Linked DNA regions of Homo sapiens: region 2 is linked to region 1. Evidence: fine-mapped expression QTL. A gene starts in region 1. The other region holds a variant in brackets. All regions are shown on one strand. Distances are from middle to middle. Region 1 holds the start of NFE4 (nuclear factor, erythroid 4). Region 2 holds the start of LOC124901713 (a long non-coding RNA gene).

Region 1 (8,333 bases):
ACCCAGGAGGTGGAGGTTGCAGTGAGCTGAGATTGGACCACTGCACTCCAGCCTGGGCAATAGAGCAAGACTCTGTCCAAAAAGGGGAAGGGAAAGGAAAGGGAGGAGAGGGGAGGGGAGGGGAGGGGAGGGGAGGGAAAAGAAAAGAAAAGAAAAGGAAAGAAAAGAAAAAAGAAAAGAAAAGAAAAGAAATCAACCATACTGGCAAAAGAAAAACTAAGGTATCTAGCCTGGTATCAAAAAGATCTCTCGCCAGGCACAGTGGCTCACACCTATAATTCCAGCACTTTAGGAGGCTGAGGTGGGAGGCTTGCTTGAGCCCAGGAGTTCAAGACTAGCCTGGGCAACATAGTGAAACCCCATTTCAACTAAAAATTTAAAAATTAGTCATATATGGTGGTGCACACCTATAGTCCTAGCTACTCTAGAGGCTGAGACGGGAGAATTGTTTGAGCCTGGGAGGCTGCGGCTGCAGTAAGCCATGGTCATGCGACTGCACTCCAGCCTGGGCAACAGAGCAAGACTCTGTCTCAAAAAATAAAATAAAATAAAATCTCTCAAAGAATTTGTAACCATATTGACCATTTTTGGTTTGGGTTAAACAGAAATAATAATAAATTCATTTTTTTTAAAAAAATGAATGAAAAGAAAAAAAGAGTTTGTAACCAAAGGCCAGCGATTATGTGTGTTGGGATTTAAATTTCATCATGCCTGGGATCCAATTTGAATTTGTTACCTTTGTAAATGGATTTGATATATTAATGTGCAAAGAGGTTCCACTGGTAATAACTCTGGGACATTTGGCAGAAATAAATATCATTCTCTCTAAAGAGACAGACACAGTCAAGCCAGGCCTTACAGGATACCCATGGATTAAGCCCTCCAAAAACAAGCTCCCAATCAAAAACTGCAAAACACACGAGGAAAAGGAAGTCCAACAAGATTCAAAAGAAACCTTTAAAGTGATGAAGACATAAAAAGAAAAATAAAACTCTTGAGACAAATGTTGTCAAAACAGGACTGGGAAGATCTGTAAAAGAACCAAATAAAATCATGAAAATTAAAAATATAGTTATTGAAATTTAAAACTCAGTGGGTGAGTTAAATAGCAGATGCGACTCAGCTAAGAAGAGAATCAACAAATGAATATGTACCTGAAGAAATTACACAGGATAAAATGTAGAGAAATAAAGAGATGAAAAATATAAAGGATGCTAAGAGACACATTACATAACATGAAAAGGTCCAACACACATCTTTACAGAATTTCCAGGAGGGAATAAAGAGAATAAAATCAAAGCAAAATTTAAAAATACCACAGACTAAAATGTTTTAGAACTGATGAAAGGCAACACTTTTCAGATTCAAAAAGCACAGGAAGTTCCAAGCAGGAAAATGAAAATATATCAATGGCATTATAAGTGAAACTGCAAAAGGCCAAAGCACAGGAAAATTTTTCAGGCAATTTGACACAGATTACGTACAAAAGACTGTCACGTAGACAGAACAACATAAGGTGGAAGTCAGCAGAAACTATCAATCTGAGATACCATATGCAAGTAAATTACAACTCAAAAATGAGTATTAAGACATTTTTGGCTGAGTGCAGTGGCTCACACCTGTAATCCCAGCACTTTGGGAGGCTGAGGCAGGCAGATCACCTAAGGTTGGGCGTTCGAGACCAGCCTGACCAAGATGAAGAAACCCCCTCTCTACTAAAAACACAAAATTAGCCAGGCGTGGTGGCACATGCCTGTAATCCCAGCTACTTGGGAGGCTGAGGCAGGAGAATCGCTTGAACCCGGGCGGAGGTGGCGGTGAGCCAAGATTGTGCCATTGCACTCCAGCCTAGGCAATAAGAGCGAAACTCCGTCTCAAAAAAAAAAAAAAAAAGACATTTTTTGCCAGGCATGGTAGTACACCTGTAGTCCCAGCTACTTGAGAGGCTGAGGCAAGATTACCTGAGCCCAAGAATTGAAGGCCAGCCTGGGTAACATAGCAAGACTCTGTCTCTAAAAAATTTAAGGCCAGGCACAGTGGCTCATGCCCGTAATCCCAGCACTTTGGAAAGCCAAGGTGGGCGGATCACCTGAGGTCAGAAGTTCGAGACCAGCCTGGCCAACATGGCAAAACCCCATCTCTACTAAAAATACAAAAATTAGCTGGGTGTGGTGGCATGCACCTGTAATCCCAGCTACTTGGGAGGCTAAGGCAGGAAAATCGCTTGAACCAGGGAGGCAGAGGTTGCAGTGAGCCAAGATTGTGCCACTGCATTCCAGCCTGGGAGACAGAGTGAGAGTCCATCTCAAAAAAAAAAAAAAAAATTTAAAGACACTTTGAGACATAGACTGAGAGTTTGCTTCCAATGGACCCTTCACAAAGGAACTTCTAAAGAACACTGAAATCAGAAGAAAGGCATGAAATGCAAATAATAACAATGGGCAAAAAATCTAATAAGTATATGGGTAAAGCCATTAACTTTATAAAACAGTATCATGATGAAAACGTGGGGGTAGAACAATAAGATGGAACAAAAACACTAGATAATAATAACACTCTAACACCAGAGAGAGTAATCAAGAGTTAGTGTTCTAAATTTCAATTATTCTTCAAGAAGAAAGTATAAATATTAATTTACTTTAGGCCTTATTAATAAATGTACACATTAAAAATATTTGAGTAACCAGTAAAATAGTAGAAATAGAATGGTTATCTTCTACAACATGTTAAAAATATTTAAGAGTAACCAGTAAAATCATAGAAATAGAATGTATATCATCTAAAACATGAAAGTAGAAAAAAGGGGGTAGATTTAAATACTCAATAAATAGTACACTACTTGGTAATGGGTGCGCTAAAATCTGACTTCACCACTATACCATTCATCAATGTAACCAAAAACCACATCTATCCCAGAAGCTATTGAAATTACTTTAAACGTTTTTATTTTTTAAAAATTCAATAAAGTCAGGAAAGGGGAAAAATAAAACATATAAAAAGATAATAAATAATAAATAAAAAGATAATAAATAGTATAAAATGAAATTAGAAAAATGAACCCAAGTATATCAATAATCATAATAAATTTAACAAAATGTATTGGTTAGAAGACAAAAATTTTTTATTCCTAAAAATGCTTTTTGCTTTAATGTTTTTCCCCCAATATTAATGTAGCTATCTATTTTCTTTTCTTAGTTTTATTTTTAATTGACAAATAATAATTAAAATGCATTTATGGTTAAAATGTGATGTTTTGATTTATGTTTATAATGTGGAATGATTAAATCAGGTTAATAATTAAGAAATCACCACCTCACATAATTATCATTTTTGTGTGTGAAGAAAACATTTAAAATCTACACTTTCAGGCACGGAAAGACAAATTCTCCATGATTTCACTTCTATGTGAAATTTTAAAATGTTGGACTTACGGAAGTAACGAGTAAAATGATGGTTATCAGCCTTCCTTTCATTTGTGTTCATTTTGTTTTTGAAAGATTCTCCCCAACGCCCGAAAGCTTGAAGGAATGAGTAACTCCTCTCTTCTCAGGCCCAGTCCCAAGGCACAAGGCCACTTGTACCAGCAGCGTGAGTCAGCAAGATAGCAGAAGCAGGAAGAGAGCCGGCCAGAAGACACCTACCCTGGCCGGAAGACACGTACCCCTGAAGATCGAGAAACAGGCCATCTGGGTACCACATAGCAGTTACATCAGACTGGGACAATTCCTGTTTACGGAAGACTATAAAACCCTGCCCCCTACTCATTTGGTGCTGACGCCATTTTAGGCCTTAGCCTGCCTGCACCCAGGCGCTCATTAAAACAGCAGGTTGCTCCACACTGCCTCGTGTTGTCTGTTGGCACACTCTCAAGAGTTTGAACGGATACAAGAATCTTTCATCTGGTGCCGAAACCCGGGAGGGGCTCCGGTCTTCGTCCCCCGTGGACCTACCCCTCCGCCCCAGAAAGCAGGCCACAGCAGCCGGACAAAGGAAGCTCCTCAGCCTCCAGTTGCTTCTCTGTGCATGCACATCAGTCACTGATCTCACCTACTGGTAAGTTTCCCGGGAGCCCGGTTAACAAGGAAAAATCCATACAGCCTCTCTTGGTTTCTCCAGTCTGAAAATCCAACATTGGTCCAAGAAGGCTCCGACGTGTGCCAGGTACTTGCTGATCATCTGGTCTTAGGGGGACGCCTCTAAGCCATTTGATCCCGTTCCGGGAACGAAAAAGGCAGCGGTGACGATCGCTCCTTTCATCGTCTCCCTCCACCATCCAGGATGGTCTCCTTTTTCCCTGTTTTCCCGAGCCTACCCTCAGTTATGGGAAACTCCCCATCCTCAATTCCAAAAAACAGCCCTCTAGGCTGCCTCATAAAAAACCTGTAAACCTGGCCAGGTGCGGTGGCTCATGCCTGTAATCCTAGCACTTTGCGAGGGTGAGGTGGGCGGATCACCAGGTCAGGAGGTCAAGACTATCCTGGCTAACACGGTGAAACCCTGGCTCTACTAAAAATACAAAAAATTAGCCGGGCATGGTGGCAGGCACCTGTAGTCCCAGCTACTCAGGAGGCTGAAGCAGGAGAATGGTGTGAACCCGGGAGGCAGAGCTTGCAGTGAGCCAAGATCACACCACTGCACTCCAGCCTGGGCGACAGAGTGAGAGTCCGTAAAACAAACAAACAAACAAAAACCTGCAAACCTTAGGCCTCAGGCAAGATATCCATCCTCCTTGTCTTTTTTTGCAATTCAGACTGGCCACAATACGAATTGAATAATGGGTCCTAATGGCCCGCAAATAGAACATTCGACTTTACAATTTTAACTGATTTAAGCAATTATTGCTGACGACTGGAGAAATGGGGAAAAACTCCTTATGTCCAGCCCTGTTTGCACTCAGATCACAACCCGACCTCTGTAATTCTTGCTCACCTGTTCAAATCCTCCTCTATTCTCGCCACCCAGATCACCTTTCTCCTCCCAACTCGACATATTTTCCTCGTTAGATCCAGCAGACTGCTGTCCATTCCTCTCAGCCCCTGCCTCTCCCTCTCAGCCGTCTTCTTTAACCCCCTAAGCCTCCTCTTTATCTTCTCAGCTGCGATCTTCTCAGCCTTCATCTTCCCAGTCGCCATCTTCCCAGCCCCCATCTTCCCAAGCAGCAGTATCCACTTCTTTTCCTACACTGTCCTCTCCTCAGGACAATTCTAGCATTGTCTGTACTCATTACTCATTCTCCTTCCTCACTGCCCTCTCCTGAAGCCTGTAAACCCATCCCACCACCTTACGCCCCTATCTATCCTCCACTGCCTATCAACTTAACCCTCCTTCCCCCTTCAAACCCTCAGCAGGAACCACTTTCAGGTTCTTCCTTCTCTCCCACCCATACTCGCTCAGGCACCATCTTTGGCCCATGCCCCACCCTTAGTTCAGCCCCTGTGCTAGAGAGCCCCCTTCAGAAAGTAGCAGGAACTGGAGGCATTGTTAAAGTTTATGTTCCCCTCTCCCTCAGTGATCTCTCTCAAATTAACAAAAGACTCAGTTCATTTCCAGAAGACCCTACCTCTTACATTAGAGAGTTTCAGTACCTCACCCAGTCTTATGAACTAACTTGGCATGACCTCTACATTATCCTCTCTTCCACCCTCACCCCAGAAGACTGGGGCTGTATCTGGACCCTAACTCAGGTACATGCTGATACAATTCATCACCAAGCTCCTGCTCAGCCTACTGGTGCAAAGGCAGTCCCCAACCAGGACCCCCACTGGGATTATCAAGATGGGGCCTCTGGACGCTGCTGTCGAGACCACATGATTGTGTGCCTCCTTGCAGGACTCAAAAAGGCTGCCCATAAAGTGGTAAACTATGAAAAACTTTCAGAAATCACCCAAGGTCCTAACGAAAACCCAGCCCTTTTTATCTCTCGTTTAACTGAAGCCATGAGAAAATATACCAACCTAGACCTAGCCAGTCCAGAAGGAACCGATATTTTAAACCTTCAGTTCATCTCCCAATCCACCCCCAATATTCAGCGCCAGCTTCAAAAACTTGACAACAGCCCTCAAACCCCACAACGAGACTTTCTTAATTTAGCCTTCAAAGTCTTTAACAATCGTGATGAGGAAAGTAAAAGGCAAAAACAGGCAGGGTTTCAAATGCTTGCCTCCTCCATCAGGGGCCCTGCAGGCCATGGGGCCACAGCTCCACACAGAAGCCTCCTAGCAATCCACCTCCACCTGGTGCCTGCTTCAAGTGCGGCAATGAAGGCCACTGGCCCACACAATGCCCAAACCCAGGTAAACCCACGAGGCCATGCCCCCTCTGCGGAGGACCCCACTGGAAGTTGGACTGTGAGCGGCCCCTGCAAGGACCACCCCCATCCCTTCCTGAGCCAATCAAACCCTCCTACTCGGATCTCGTCAGCCTTGCCGCTGAAGACTGATAGTGCCTTGGAACAGACACCCCAGCAACTACCATCGCTTCATCTGAGCCAAGGGTAACCCTGATGGTGGCAGGTAGGCCAGTATGTTTTTAAAATTAATACCAGGGCAACCTATTCTGCTTTCCCTAATTTTTCAGGACCCACCCAGTCCTCCCAAGTCTCTATTGTGGAAATTGATGAACAAGCCTCCAAACCCTGAGCCCCCCGCTCCACTTTTCTGCTCCCTGCACACCTTTTCCTTCACTCACTCTTTCTTAGTCCTGCCCTCATGCCCAACTCCGCTCCAAGGCATCCTTTCAAAACTCCACACTGCTCTCCACTTCCACGTTCCCCATAATACCCAACGCATCAACCCAAACCCCTCTGGGGCTTCTTTCTTCTATTCCAACCTCCCACCTTAAAACATGCAACCTTTCCTTATCCCCCATCTGTAGTTAGCCCCCCTGTTTGGGGTAATTCCACACCCTCAGTCGCAAAACACCACACTCCCGTCCGTCCACATTACCCTTAAAGAGCCCACCCAGTTCCTATCACAGAAGCAGTATCCCATCCCCCAAGCAGCTCTCACAGGCCTAACGCCTATCATTTCTCACCTCCTCGCCAGTCACCTACTCCGCCCAACATACTCCCCTTTTAACACACCAATTCTACCTGTTAAAAAACCAGATGGAACTTATCGCTTAGTCCAGGACCTCAGGCTTATTAACCAAGCTGTACTCCCAGTATGTCCAGTAGCTCCTAACCCATATACTTTACTTTCTGCAGTTCCCTCCAATACCACCCATTTTTCTGTTCTAGACCTAAAGGATGCTTTTTTCACAATTCCATTACACCCTGATTCCCAAAACCTCTTTGCCTTTACATGGGAAAACCCCAACACCCATGGAGTCCCTGTGTATGATCACTTAAACAGAGAAAAACGATCCTTAAAGGTAGGAGGAAGCCAAAGACGGCAAGAGGACGAGTGGCCCCTGCAATGGATCATCGAATATTATGGTCCTGCCACTTGGGCGGAGGATGGTTCATGGGGTTATCGCACTCCCATATATATGCTAAATAGAATAATTAAGGCTACAGGCTGTTCTAGAGATAATCACTAACCAAACCGCCTCCGTCCTGGAAATGCTCGCACAACGACAAAAACAAATGTGCGTGGCAATTTATCAAAACAGGCTAGCACTAGACTACTTATTAGCAGAAGAGGGTGGAGTCTGTGGTAACTTTAATGTCTCCAATTGTTGTCTTAACATAGACAATAATGGAAAAGCAGTTCTAGAAATCGCTTCAAACATCAGAAAAGTAGCCCATGTACCAGTCCAAACCTGGAAAGGATGGGACCTGGCAAACCTTCTAGGAGGATGTTTCTCTAATTTAGAAGGATTTAAAATGCTGATAAGGACAGTAATCTTCATCATTGGGCTCCTCCTTTTTCTCCCGTGTTATCCCACTGATAATAAAAGCCATTAAAACTCTTGTTGAAGCTACAGTTAACTATGTTTATTGTGGCACTATTCACAATAGCAAAGACTTGGAACCAACCCAAATGTCCAACAATGATAGACTGGATTAAGAAAATGTGGCACATATGCACCATGGAATACTATGCAGCCATAAAAAATGATGAGTTCATGTCCTTTGTAGGGACATGGATGAAGCTGGAAACCATCATTCTCAGCAAACTATCGCAAGGACAAAAACCAAACACTGCATATTCTCACTCATAGGTGGGAATTGAACAATGAGAACACATGGACACAGGAAGGGGAACATCACACACCGGGGCCTGTTGTGGGGTGGGGGGAGAGGGGACGGATAGCATTAGGAGATATACCTAATGTTAAATGACGAATTAATGGGTGCGGCACACCAACATGGCACATGTGGCACATGTATA
Region 2 (8,333 bases), 280 kb before region 1:
TCGCGAAGCTGAGGGCCTCGGTAGTGAGGGAGAAGTAGAGCTTCTTGAAGGAGGAGGACATGAGGGGGCCCTTGCCCTTGGTCCTGTGGATGAAGAGTGGCCCCTCCTTCACAGGTGGCGCCTGCAAACTCAGCGTCCGCTGCAGGTCCAGCTCTGCCAGGCCAGGGAGGGAGGGGAATAGAGAGCCCAGTGAATGAGGGCGGGACTGGGGGGAGCGGAGCAGTGGGAGGGGCCATGGGGCTCAAGGGCTGAGCAAATCTGAACAGCAGGCAGTGGACGTAGTCATGGGGCTCAAGGGCGGAGCAAACATCAACAGCTGGTGGTGAGCGGGGTGACAGGTGGACTGAGGAAGGCAGGGCCATGGGCTTGGAGGCGGGACACGCGTCAGTAGCAGGTGGCGGCGGGGCTATGGAGCTCAAGGATGGAGCAAATGTCAACAGGCGCAGATGATGCGGGGGTGAGGCCATGGGTCTAGGGGTGGGGCAAACGTCAACGGCAGGCAGTGGGCAGGGTCACAGGAAGCACAAACAGTGGTGCGTGGGTCTATGGCCTGGGGGCCTGGCAAATGCCAACAGCAGGCGGTGGGTGGGGCCACGAGAGGAACAAACAGCGATGGGTGGGGCCGTGGGGCTCAAGGGCGGAGCAAACGTCAGCAGTAGGCTGTGGGCGGGTCTGTGCAGGGCGGCGCTCACCGTCCTTCTCCTCGATGTCCACGAGCTTGGTGATGAAGTCCTTCAGCTGCGCCACGCCCTGGCGCACGGTGGGCTGCAGCGGCTCCATCCAAGCCTCCTTGGCCCTGGAAGCCGGCGTGTCCATGTTGCCCACGTTCTGGACTGCCTGGAGGTGACAGCAGGAAGGACCAGGTTCTGCTAGGTTAGGGGCCTAGCCACTGCACCCCCTCCCACCCCCCCTCCCCAAGTCTTTGCTACTCAGCTGTAGCGATGGAGGCAGAGGCGACAGAGGCCATGCCCACGGGCCCCCTCCAGCCCCACTAGGGATCAGGGAGGAGAGGATCATGAAGTTTGATGCCTTATGATAACTGAGACCACTTGGGCCTTCCTCTGTAGGTTTAACTGACGCTGCTGCACTGGATACCCCACCCCGGTGCCGGGCACATAGGTGCAGCCTGAGAGTAAGCAGACCCGGGTTGGAAGGTCCCGCGATTCACCACCGACAGGATGGGCGGCCTTGGCAACCCCCGACCCCTCGCAGGCCTGTTCCCTTATCCATGAGATGGAGCTCGGACAAGGTGGCCACAGGAAGGCTTTGCAAACTGTGAAGTGCAGTGCCTACGTGGGCGTGCCAGTGGCCTCGCCGGAGCCGGTAGGGAACACTCTGCAGTCCAGGCCAGGGCCCCGGTAGGACACCCAGCTGTGCATCCCGCCCGTGGCCGCAAGGCCCGCACCTTAGCCAACAGGAGCAGGGTGCGGCTGGTGCGGGCGTCCGCGTGGCGCTCCCGCAGGTGGAAGAGCTTGGGCGACATGATGGCGGGGGAGAAGAAGCGCAGGCACAGGAAGCTGGTGACGGCGATGAACGGTACATTCTGGAGGGGTGCGGAAGAGCGCGGGCTGGAGTCCCCCAGACCAGGGCTCCTGGCAGCCCCCTCCCCTTAGGCTCTGTCCCTGACCCTCGCTGCGACACAGCCTCCCTGGTCCTCCCCAGCGCTCCCTGGTTCCCCACCGCTCTTCACTCCTCGCCCCAGCCCAGTCCAACCCGGCCCAGCCTAGCCCAGCGGGTGGAGGGCGCACCTCGTGCTGGGCGCCGGGGAAGCGCTCGCGCACGCGCCGGAAGAGCTGGCGGAAGGTGGCGCGCACCACGGCGGGGCACGCGCGAACCGAGCGGCTGAGCGCGCTCAGCAGGGCCCCCAGGTGGGCGCGCAGCGTCTGCGCGCTCTGCTCCAGCACCTCGGCCTCGGTCTGCGGGCGGTGCAGCCTGGAGCACCTGCGTGGAACGGGGCGGGTTGGCAGAGGAGGTCGCGGTCAGCGCCAGGGCCACGACAGGAACAGTGGCTCTCACAGCAGCCAGGACACGGACACAGGGGACAATACACGGGTGGGCAGAAGCACAAACACACATGCTGACAGGGCCTGATCCCAACCCGCTGCCGCTGCACCCCGCAACCCCCGGAGTTACCCCCGGCCTCACCCTACATCCTTAACTTCCACTTTGCTGGGGTCCAGCTCCACGTACTTCTTCTCCTCAAACACCTTGTTGATGATGGGGCCCAGGACGCCGTGCAGGTACTGCATCCCGGCCACCTGGGGACCACCGCAGGTCACATTGATCCTGTCTCCCCCAGTCCCACTCCAGCTGCCCACCTTCTCCCGGCAGCCGCCCTTGCACCGTTTGCCTGCCGTATCCGCCCAGGAGGGGGCCAGGTACACATGCAGGGCAAACTGTTTATTCATGAATGAATGAATGAGTGAGTGAATGAATGACTAGAATTCTTAGCCCTTGTAATCCTAGCACTTTGGGAGGCCAAGGCAGGAGGATCACTTGAGGCCAGGAGTTTGAGACCAGCCTGGGCAACATAGTGAGACTGTCTCTAACTTAAATTTTAATCACACACACATTCTCTTTGGGGGGGGGTGCGGGGCACGGAGTCTAGCACGGGGCCCAGGCTAGAGTGCAGTGGCGTGAGCTCACTACAACCTCTGGCTCCTGGTTCAAGTGAGTCTCCTGCCTCAGCCTCCCCAGTAGCTGGGATTACAGGTGCCCACCACCATGCCAGGCTAATTTTTGTATTTTTAGTAGAGATGGGGTTTCGCCATGTTGGCCAGGCTGGTCTCGAACTCCTGACCTTAAGTGATCCGCCCGCCTCAGCCTCCCAAAGTGCTGCAATTACAGGCATGAGCCACTATGCCCAGCCACATTCTTAACCTTAAAGGGCTCTGAATATGGAGATAGAACACTGGAGTCGAAGTCCCAGCCCCCTCTGTCGCTCTCTCTGAAGCTCAGTGACTACTCCAGTATTAAATGATGCATGTATAAAGTTAGTCACTCTATCATTATCTGTAATAGCAGATGATTGGAAATGACCTAAATGTCTCATAATAAGGAACTAGTTTTAAAAAGCATGTTCCATTCATGCCTTGAAATACTATACATTGAAAAAATAAAAATTGTATAAATATGTGAAAAAAACAGTGTGTATATTATACTACGACTTACTTCTTTGTGCATAGATGTTCTACAAGGCTATATAAAAGATTGTTAATTATGGTTGTCTCTTGGGAGGGGGAGTTTAGATTGTATAATGGGGTAGAAGGCTGACTTTTCGTTGTTTACTATTCTGCACCTTCTGGATTTTGTACTATGTATATATTTTATATATTAAAATAGCTTTATATAAATAAAACTAGCCCCATGGCTGAATAAATTTTATTACAATTTTCTTATGATTCCCTGATACTCTGTTCCTTAACTTCCTAGTCTGGCTTGCATCTCACTGCTTGACCATTGAGAACCTGATCTTGCTTGCCTAATGAAAACTTTAGTAATTGTCTTGTCTTAGCTAACTTTACTGGGTTGACTCCTGCTAACTCATTTTACTGATTTACCTGTAAGTCTGGTTACCAGATGGACAAATTCCCAATCCTACTCCCTTCTGTTTATTTGCCAAGGAATCTACCCAACAGACAACAGTACCCTCTCTCTACCTATATATTAATACATTTTTTGTTGAAAAAGGTATTTTATTTTAATCCTTAAGCTTCCATCTTTAGTCCCCAATGTATTAAAATAGTGATTGCATTACTAAAGAGACTGTTTTACAAGATGCACATTCACCTAAGAGCCACGAGCTTTCCAAAGCCAACCTTCTCTCAAAGGAGAAAATACTATTATTTCTCCTAGTACTTATTTTGAAGAGCAACATCCGTTCAGCGACTATTTAGAAAGCCAGTATCAAAGTTTAGATTATTATTTTTAATATTTAATCAAGTTGCTACAACAGTAGTTAACAATCAATGAAAAATAAAGAGGTGATTAAAATGTATTAACTATGTAATTAAACACATGCACATACACATACAAACTAGGATCTCATTATGTCAGTAAAGAACTAGAAAAGGATAAAGGAGAAGAGAGGCAAATAAACCACACAAACAGAGGGACAGATGGGCCACTGAGGGTAGGGCCACTGCTGCGTTTTCCTCCCATTCCTAGCCTTGGGTTTGGCATATTGTAGATGCTCAGGAAAGATTTTTCAGAATGAGTTAAGGAAGATAATCTCACAGATTGTATGTGAGGAGGTAAAGGACCAATTTTTCTTTATCTTTCTTCTTCTCTGTCCCCTTTTCAACATCCTTCTGACTCCCTCTTACCACTAAGCACAGCTTGTTCAAATAGAGTTGTTCTGACAATACCCCAGATTCCTGGCCAAAATCAATCTCCATGTTTGTCATTTTAAAGATGCCAAGAGGAGGACATCCTAACACAGTGCCTTCTTTCCTCTTACCCTGACCTCTTCTGCAGTGTACCATTTAACTGAATTGAGGGGTATTAATCTACTTTGCAAAGTGGAATATGGCCTGTATTCTTATAATCTTAGCATCAATATTCAATCTTTGTAAATGGATTTAGTTATGTTGATATCTCAAATATTTAAGTGCATTACAAGGTCTTCTTCCATACTGGAAAAGTTTTTAAATTTCCACCCCACTGTCAGAGTAAAAACAATAATAACAAAAATATGGGAACAATAGAACCTATCTGTACTGTTCAATAAACTATCCGTCTCTTTGAAGATTCTTGACAGCCAAGGAAAATCTTGAAAAATTATTATTCTTGCAAGGGTGCCTAGATGTCTGAAGGAAAAGCGAAAACATGTCAATAATAGCAAGATTTGCAGGAAGGTTTATAAAAGAAAATTGGTCATTTTTTAAAGCACAGCCTATAAGTACAGCTGTTAGTGAGGGGTGATAACTAAGGAGAGGATGGGGAAACATACTAGAAATATTTAAACAGAGTGTACATAGTTATCTTTGTTTTAATACACAGTCTACTTTAAAAGTCAAATTGTAAAACCTAAAATAGCAGTGTTTAAATGTGTGAATGTCAAGTGAAATGC[G/A]CGCTGAAGCAGGAAACGGAAGATTGGGTTCCAAATTCCACCCCGATGTGTAACCCAGGGCGAGTCTCAATCTTCCAGAATCTTTAAGATGGAAATAGCAATATCTCAAACCTCCTATTACAGAATCATTCTGAAAAGTAAGTTTACATACTTGAAACTACTTCGTAAGCTCCTTGAGGGTGGGGTTCTTATCTTTTCCCCTTTATAACCAGTTACTTAAGGTATAAAAAAATAGAAAATATTTAATTCCTCGAAAAAAATTGAAATGTCATTAGGGATTATCTCAAGAAGCTCATTAGTAACTCTATAGAAGGTCCAACCTACAAAATAAATGAAGCTTTAGTAGCGTCAGCAAATCACCGATACTTTCAGTAATTAAAACTTTAGTTTAATTTTAGGCCAGGTGCAGGGGTTTACACCTGTAATCCCAGCATTTTGAGAGGCCGAGGTGGGTAGATCACTTGAGCCCGGGAGTTTGAGACCAGCCTGGACAACATGGTGAAACTCTATCTCTACATAAAATACAAAAATCAGCCAGGCCTGGTGTTATGTGTCTGTGGTCCCAGCTACTCCAGGGGCTGAGGTGGGAGGATTGCTTGAGCCCAGAAGGTAGAAGTTGCAGTGAGCTGAGATTGTGTCACTGCACTTCAGTCTGGGCAACAGAGACAGACTTTACATCAAAGAAATTTATTTAAAAAACCAACATTTATTTATCTGGTACCAGCCTTAAGAGAACAAAATATATAGAAAATAAAGCATCTTTTGAATATGTGAATATCCTCATAAAAAAAGATAATTTTACAAGTATGAAATTAGGTAAACAATGGCAGCATCTTTTTTTAAATACACAGTGGTAGACCGTGTTGTTAAATATACATAGGTATCAAGTTGCAATTCTTTCAGAAAGCATTCTGATTACTATATCAACAACCTACCGTGTCTACTACACCTCTGGCCAGAGACTTCCCCCATAGGCTCAGATCCACATACTGGACATTCCCTTCAGACCTGTTGCTTCTTCTGAACTCTCATGTATGGTGCCATAATTTGGCTGATTTCCTAAATCAGAATGCCAAGCATCAATTTAGAATCTTTTCCTCACCCACTCCATCCACTCAGACACTAAGTCTATAGAATTTTATACTTCCTTAACATCTCTCCTAAATGTATTCACTCCTTTTTTCCTCATTGCCAATGCCACTGTGCAGTCTCTCTTCACATCTTCATCACTGAAACGGCATTCTAACTGGTGAGATGGTAGGAATGGAAAACACAAATTCAAGAGATATTAACAAGAGAGAACCAACTGACAGAACCCAGGAGCAGAGTTCGGTTCCGGAGAAGGATAATGGATTTAGTTGTGAGTATGTTTAGTTTGAGGTACTTTGGGGTCATCTACATGAAGATATTCCAAGTATGTGCATACATGGGTATGGGCAAAGAAACCAGATTCATAGTGGACCCTGTGTATATGGATGCAATATCCCCTTTCATGTCTTACTGCCTTAAAAGCCTTTCTAGACCGTCTCATCCCACAGCAGTCAAGCCTCCCTTTCCCTTCTGATAACACTGCTTGTATCCTCTGGGTCCAAAATCATATGCCTTTTGTTGACATTTAATATTTCAATCTTCTTGTTCACAAATAATGCTTCTAAAGAATAGGAACCTTTTTATGCTTTATGTCCATAAATTCTCATGGTATCTAGCATAATCCAGCACACAGGAGGTGCTCAAAACCAAGGAGGAGTTGAAGGGATGAATTTCAGTAGCTTTAGTAATAATAATTATAAACATCTAGCACAGTGCCTGGCACATAGTGAATGCTGTATCTTTTATCTTTTAAATAGATTAAGACTTAATGTCCAAAATTATTGTTCACAAGGTTCTTGACATCTTAATACTCACCAAATCTGACATGCAACTGAAACTTGGACACAAATGCTGCTATTACATATTTTGTAAGAAGTACAACCACTCATAGTTTTATATATAACCTGTTTTCGTGAAAAGGTCATATATTAACAAACTTAATCCATCTTCATCATTGCCCATGATGATTGGTACACATCCACACTCTACTTTTAGTTTCATATTCTATTTTGATTCGTAGTTTTACTTCCTCGGTGTTTCCCTACAATGTTTGTTCTCCCTTTTATGCCTCCCAAATGCAATGCTCCTATGCCTCCTTTTTTCCACCCCTTGGCTAAGTCAGGTCAAAGACTTACTTAACAATGATTGGAACAATAATTATTTTCAGGAAATAAAGAGAAGGGAGGAGATGCCTGGCTCTTGGTAAAAAGCAAAGAGCCAATTATTTCGCTTAGGCGAAATAATTTAATGTTTTGATTTTGGCTCACAGCATTAAGACAAAAATGATTTTACGGCCTCCAAGTCGTGGAAAAGTTCAGCATCTGACACACTGACCCTTGACAAGTGAGGCCACATTTATAAATCAGTGCTGTTTTACATAAGCACATACAGATAGAAGTAGAAATCCTAACTAGGGAATACCGTGAAAGCTATCACTTGTATTAACCCTGGACATGTGACAGCATCTAACATAATACCCATTGGAGTGTATGCTGGTTCAACCTCTTTGGAAAACTGATTGAAGGTCTTTACTAAAGCTGAATATAAACCTAGACTATGACAGATTAACCCCACTCCTGTGTATATACCCAAGATAAGTTCATTCTTAAGTACAAGGCATGCATAAGAATGATCACAGAACTTTATTCATTATCTTCAAAACAGGAAATAATCCATTTTTATAAACAAAATAGAATGGATCAACAAATTATGGTATATTTACACAGTAGTGAGGTAGGAGGCAGAACTCGACTTTGGAGGTGGGGCTTGGACATCACACCAAATTGAGGACTAGCTAAAAGAGGTCTGAGGCAGAAGCACCTCCCCCATTAGACACCAGTGTGCCATGTTAGTTTACTGTTGCCATGGTAACATCAGGAAGTTACTGCCCCTTTCCATGGCATCAACCCGACAACCTGCAAGTTACCAACCTCATTCTAGAAATTTCTGCATAAACCAGTCCTTAATTTGCATCTAATTAAAAGTGGATATAAATTTGAGTGCAGAACTGCCTCTGAGCTCCTATTCCAGGTACACTGCCTATGGGGTATCCCTGCTCCACAAGGATCAGAACCTCTGCTGCTGCAGTTCACTGCCACTTCAATAAAAGTTGCTGTTTAACATCACAACCCTCTCAAGGGCAAGCCTCAATTTGGGGGCTTGACTGTCCTGT

What was found.
Region 2: its variant is fine-mapped to the expression of NFE4 in whole blood (TOPMed, PIP above 0.99).

Annotation. Positions count from the first base shown.
Region 1 is chr7:102,969,719-102,978,051 of GRCh38, forward strand. NFE4 (nuclear factor, erythroid 4) reads left to right here and starts at 3,712. Exons shown (of 3, transcript NR_166512.1): 1 at 3,712-4,053. All of the region lies in intron 7 of FBXL13 (F-box and leucine rich repeat protein 13), which reads right to left. RefSeq lists enhancers at 3,233-4,432, 3,890-4,403 and silencers at 4,083-4,253, 6,824-6,985.
Region 2 is chr7:102,688,212-102,696,544 of GRCh38, forward strand. LOC124901713 (a long non-coding RNA gene) reads left to right here and starts at 776. Exons shown (of 2, transcript XR_007060461.1): 1 at 776-873; 2 at 1,068-3,398. It also overlaps the pseudogene RASA4DP. The variant G/A (reference allele first, on the strand shown) is at 5,072.